Regions from separate parts of the Homo sapiens genome. Here region 1 is linked to region 2. The links come from fine-mapping of genetic effects on gene expression. Tissue or cell type: whole blood. Region 2 holds a variant in brackets; the other region holds the start of a gene. All regions are shown on one strand. Distances are between the middles of the regions. Region 1 holds the start of YWHAZ (tyrosine 3-monooxygenase/tryptophan 5-monooxygenase activation protein zeta). Region 2 has its middle 58 kb from the start of YWHAZ.

The links.
Region 1: YWHAZ starts here. The variant in region 2 is fine-mapped to the expression of YWHAZ in whole blood (TOPMed, PIP above 0.99).

Annotation. Positions count from the first base shown.
Region 1 is chr8:100,950,423-100,953,315 of GRCh38, forward strand. YWHAZ (tyrosine 3-monooxygenase/tryptophan 5-monooxygenase activation protein zeta) reads right to left here and starts at 1,598. Exons shown (of 6, transcript NM_145690.3): 1 at 1,507-1,598. RefSeq lists enhancers at 1-836, 463-542, 1,695-2,553, 2,833-2,893 and silencers at 123-342, 733-1,502, 1,733-1,992, 2,013-2,692.
Region 2 is chr8:100,892,150-100,895,042 of GRCh38, forward strand. No RefSeq gene overlaps it. Among named protein-coding and RNA genes, the nearest start is that of YWHAZ, 58 kb to the right of the region's middle. RefSeq lists an enhancer at 466-1,144. The variant C/T (reference allele first, on the strand shown) is at 1,461.

The sequences.
Region 1 (2,893 bases), 58 kb after region 2:
TTACTGTGAAACGAAAACGGGCAGACCCGGACTTTAAAGTGCAAATTCTCCGGTCCGCGTATCGCAACCACCCCCCTCCAGGCTCCGCCCAAGTCGGAGCCACGGCTCAAGTCCCCGACTCTCCTCCTTTGTCATGGCGGATCTGTGTCAGGGAGCCCAACCTACTGCAGAGTGTTAATTCCTCCCCCCGACCGGAGCCAGAGGGAGGAGCAGCCCGCGCCCCCGCCCAAGCCGTGGGGGGGGGGGAGAGATGGGGAGCGAAGCCGCCCGACCCCGGGGCAGAGACGCCACAGCAGCCCGCAGAAGCGGAACCACTACCAGCCCCGCCGCGGACACACCCCGCTCTCCCACCCAGCGCCTTCCCCGCCACCGATCAGCGCCGGTGACCGTGTACAGCGTCTCTAAGGGACCGACAGCTGCAGGTGGGGGAGGGGACGAGAGCCACACCCAGCCGAGCGGGCCACCAGCGGCTATGCTCAGGCTCACCCGCCCCCAAAGCAGGATATGCGTCCCCAAACCGAGCGCAGGGACCCTCCAGTTCTAGTCCATCAAGCACGGGAGCCGACTGCGGGCTCACCACCCTGTTCTCTACCCCGACCTGGACTTGCAGCCCCCGTCCACACCTCCCCCGCCCGTTCACAAGGAGCAAAAAAAGTCAGACCCATCCCCCACCCCCACCAGGAAAATTCAAGTCCTTCCTCCCACCGCGGAGCCCAGGAAATTCAGCTCTAGGTCCCAGGCGAGCCCCACCCCAAAACCTCACCCCGCAGTGGACTCCCCTCCCGCCGGCGCGCAGCCTCGCCCCGGTCTACCTGGCGGGCGCCGCCGCGCCAGGCCTGGGCTCCGGCCCGCTCTCGGCCAGGCCTTTCCCTCGCGCTTGGGTCCCCGAGGCCCCCGGCCCCTCCCCGCCGCGCCACCGCCTCCCGGGGTGGGGGAGGGCCGGGTCCCGCCGCCGCAGCGCCCAGCGCGGAGGCTGCGCGAGGGGGAGGGAAAGGAGGGGGCGGCCGAGGGAGAGGGGAGGGGGCGGCCTCACCTGCGCCACTGCGATGCCCGCCGCCGCCGCCGCCGAGTCATTATCTCGGGCGGAAGCGAGAAGGGCGGCGAGGGAGGGGGTGGAAGCCCGCAGAGACAAGGGTGGGGATGGATCGCGGCCGGCGGCGCCCCGGCCATGCCTCGTCCACCTTCGGGAGCCGGCGACAGGGAGATCCCCAGGGATCTCGCGTGTGGGCGCCCTACCCACCCCCGGGGGCAGGACGGGGGAGCGAGCACCGATCGGCGCCGGGGCGTCGATGCGGAAGCAAGGAGCCGGAGGCGGCCGCTAGCCGCCCTCCCGAGCCCAGCGGAAGAGGAGCCGCCGCCCGTGTCCGCTGAGGAGACTCCGCCTCAGCCCGGCGCCGCCACCGCGGGGCGAGTGGGGATGAGGGGACGGAGCGAGGACGGCTCCCACGCGTTCGGAAGGCTGGCCTGGGACAGGAAGCGAGGCGCGGCGGCGGCCGGGTTCCTCACCTGTGTCCGGAGTGGGTGGTGGCGGCGGACGGACGGGCTCAGCAGTCTCTGGGCGGCGGCGGCGGCAGCAGCGGCGAGGCTGAGACTCTGTCCCTGGATCTCGCTGCTCACAGGCTACAGCCGCTCCGCAGACACGGGGTTTCCTCCAATCACCAGCCCCGGCAGCAGGGGCACCACACGCACGATGACGTCAAACGCTGCTATGGCAACCGTTGATTGGTGCCCACAGCGATCGGGGCCCCGCGTAACCGCCGCTCCCCGGCGCTCGTCCTGCCCGCCCGCGCTGGAGGGCGAGCGGAGGCGCGCGCGTCCTCGCCCGCAGCCGCCACTCCTCCCACCCCGCTCGGCTTCCAGCTCCTCTACGCTTGTCCCGAGTGCACCTAGGGCAGGAGGCTGCTTTTTTCCTTTTCCTCCCCAACGCAAATCCCCCACTCCTCGCCTTCCCTTTGGGTCCCCAACGCCCTCTCTCTCCCTCTCCCCTGCAGCCTCTGCCGGCCCACTCTTCCTCTCAGCCGGCGGGAAGGCGTTCTCTCCCTACCCCCACCTTAGCTTTCGCTCAGCCCGTCTGCGCTTGCCCCAGTCACTCCCTCTGGAAGGGGCTCCCGTTCAGCAACATCCGGGACCTTTCACATCCCCCCACCCCTCCCCGAGGCCCGGCCCGCCCCACCCTCCGTGCTTCGCGGTAGTAACTGCCCCAGGGCCGTCCCCGGGCAGGATGACAAGGGTGGCTCGGCGGCTCCGGCATTGTGATCAGGACTTGCGGGGCGGGGGCCCCGGGGCGGGGGCAGGGCGCGGTCGCACGGCAAGGGAGGGTTGTGTGTGGTGCGCTGCCCCCCGCCCCGCCCGCCGCTCCCCTTCCCCGGCTGGGCCGACCGGGGCGCGCGGCCCCTCCCGGCCTCCCTCCCGCCGCCGCGGCTTTACCTGCTGGCTCGGGGGAAGCGGTCCTAGACCTTTTATGGCTCGGAAACGGGAGTGAGGCGTCCAGCCCCTGAGTGTGGCTGAGTGATGGGGAGGCGTTCCAATCGAGAGCGCGGGATCTGCGCTCGGTGACTGCGCGAGGGGACAATGGGTGGGCGCCGAGGTGGGGGCGAGGTGGGCCGGGCCGGGCGGAGCCGGCAGGAGGTGAGGCCTGGAAGGAGGCGCGGCCGCTTTAGGGAAGCCAGAGTTCCGAGGGGAAAGGACAGCCTTCTCGGGCGGAGGGCTGGAGCTGGTCCTGGCAGCCTTGACCCGGAGACAGGCAGTCAGGCGTGACCGCACGGACCCGTTTCTCGTAGGCTAGGTTTTCCTACCCAAATAAAGCTTTCACGTGAAGACCTCATACTGCACATGACGATCATTACCTTTTTATCTCCTAGAAGCAAGGTTTGAGGGACGTCGTAGTCCCCAG
Region 2 (2,893 bases):
GCTCCTCTCTTCCCAGTAGGGGCGGCCGGGCAGAGGCACCCCTCATCTCCCGGATGGGGCGGCTGGCCGGGTGGGGGGCTGACCCCCCCACCTCCCTCCTGGACGGGGCGGCTGGCCGGGCAGAGGGGCTCCTCACTTCCCAGTAGGGGCGGCCAGGCAGAGGCGCCCCTCACCTCCCGGACGGGGCGGCTGGCCGGGCGGGAGGCTGACCTCCCCACCTCCCTCCCGGATGGGGTGGCTGGCCGGGCCGGGGGCTGACCCCCCCACCTCCCTCCCGGATGGGGCAGCTGGCCGGGCAGAGGGGCTCCTCTCTTCCCAGTAGGGGCGGCCGGGCAGAGGCGCCCCTCACCTCCCGGATGGGGCGGCTGGCCGGGCGGGGAGCTGACCCCCCCACATCCTTCCCGGACAGGGCGGCTGGCCGGGCAGAGGGGCTCCTCACTTCCCAGTAGGGGCGGCCGGGCAGAGGCGCCCCTCACCTCCCGGACCGGGGCGGCTGGCCGGGCGGGGGGCTGACCCCCACCTCCCTCCCAGACGGGGTGGCTGCCGGGTGGAGACGCTCCTCACTTCCCAGACGGAGCGGCTGCCAGGCGGAGGGGCTCCTCACTTCTCAGACGGTGCGGCTGCCGGGCGGAGGGGCTCCTCACTTCTCAGACGGGGCGGCTGCCAGGCGGAGGGGCTCCTCACTTCTCAGACGGGGCGGTTGCCAGGCAGAGGGTCTCCTCACCTCTCAGACGGGGCGGCCAGGCAGAGACACTCCTCACATCCCAGACGGGGCGGCAGGGCAGAGGCGCTCCCCACATCTCAGACGATGGGCGGCCTGGCAGAGACGCCCCTCACTTCCTAGATGGGACGGCGGCCGGGCAGAGACGCTCCTCACCTTCCAGACTGGGCAGCCAGGCAGAGAGGCTCCTCACATCCCAGACGATGGGCGGCCAGGCAGAGACGCTCCTCACTTCCCAGACGGGGTGGCGGCCGGGCAGAGGCTGCAATCTCGGCACTTTGGGGGGCCAAGGCAGGCAGCTGGGAGGTGGAGGTTGTAGCGAGCCGAGATCATGCCACTGCACTCCAGCCTGGGCACCATTGAGCACTGAGTGAACGCGACTCCGTCTGCCATCCCGGCACCTCGGGAGGCCAAGGCTGGCGGATCACTCGCGGTTAGGAGCTGGAGACCAGCCCGGCCAACACAGCGAAAACCAATGGTTGTATTTTAAACCAATAAATCTAGGGCTAATTTGTTACATAGCAGCAACAATAGATAACTGGAAATATACATATTCTTCTATTCTCACAACAGTCTGGTGATATAGGAATTATTATTATGTCCATTTTACAGATGAGGAAACTAAGGTAAAGACAGTTGAAGTCATTTTCCTAAGTCACACAGCTGGAAAGCAGTGGAGCCAAGCTCCAGCCCTGAGTTCACATCTCCATGCTGAGAAGTCCTTGGTCTTCTTGCCATA[C/T]CAGGGCATGTCTATTCCTTCCCTACTTTTACCCAGGGTGTAAAAGGGGATAGGAAGGGAGAACAGAGACCGCCAGGCAGAGTGAAGCAAAGTAGAGTGTGCTTGTCCCTACAAGTGCAATGCTCAGTCCCTATTCCATGGCCTGGGCCACATGGAAGGTGGATGGCAGGCCTCCTACATGGGCTGACAATGTTGGTAACAGCCTCCCTAGGGAAACAGGTAGACTCTCTTGCCCCACTTACCAACCTCAGTGCCTGTCAGAGTAGCATCAATACACCATAATTCTTGTGTTGAAGCACTTTAAGTGACAAGGACAAAGCAGATGCCCTTGGAAGGGACCTGGTTTGAGGTGAGATGGTGACCAGTGGTCCCCCAGAGGCCATTAGCGAACCACTGGAAGTGAGCCAGGTCCAGAGCACACAGGATAGGCTGTCTTCTCACAAGCTTTGGTTTATTTTGTCTAATTGTTTCATCTTCACTACAACTCTATTTTAAAGTAAATATCATTATTTCCAATAATGATAATGGAGAAATAGAATCTCGGAAAGGAAAAAAATAATCTGCCAAGTAATCATTTGGCATTGGATCCCAACCCAAGTCTTCTGACTCCATATAGGGGGGAGGTGTCACAAAACAGGGGATTCCAAAAGAGTGTCACTTGGTTTATGGAGTTGTCGAAGGCAGTCCTGAAATAGTCAAGGATGCTGTAGGCTCTGCTGCTTGGTCTCAATTTACCTGTCTTCACTCCTGAAAAGATTCATTCCTTATGTTAAAATATAGTTTAAAAACAAACCTATAAAACAGTCAACTTGTCGTTTTGGAGTCTTAGAGCGGAAAGAATGGGGCATGAACGAGGTCATAGACAATGTCATAGACTGCTGACAGTGGGAGGGGAGTATTGATTATGTTGTCAAATGGAGCACAGAGTCAAGACTCAGTCATTACGGCCTACAGCCAGGCTGGCCTGCAGTGGTACAAATGTCCCTGATGAAGGTCAGGGAAGTGGGGCTTTTTAATTCTAGCTCTGCCCAGCTAGGGGCCACTCACTACCCACTCCGGAACTCAGTTTTCTTGACCCTAGCATGAAGGTTTGGACTTAGATGATTGTAAAGATCATTCTCTGCTTTTGGGACTAGGGAATTATTTTCCCTCTCTCTGCCTGCCAGGAGGTGAACCTTTGCAATTCTCCCAAAGCAAGGGTTTAAATGGATGATCTGATCAGACCGAGCACAGTAGGAAGGCTAAAATCCGGGTTCTGGAATCTGGCAGATCCAATTCCAAATTCCAACTTGGCTGGTTATTAATGGTGTGACCTTGGGCAGCTATTTCACCTCTTCATGGTTTCAGTTACCCTACTTACTGGGAATATACATTGTTAATGTGTGTCATAGACTGAGTGTATCCCCCTCTAAAACTTGTATGTTGAAGCTTTA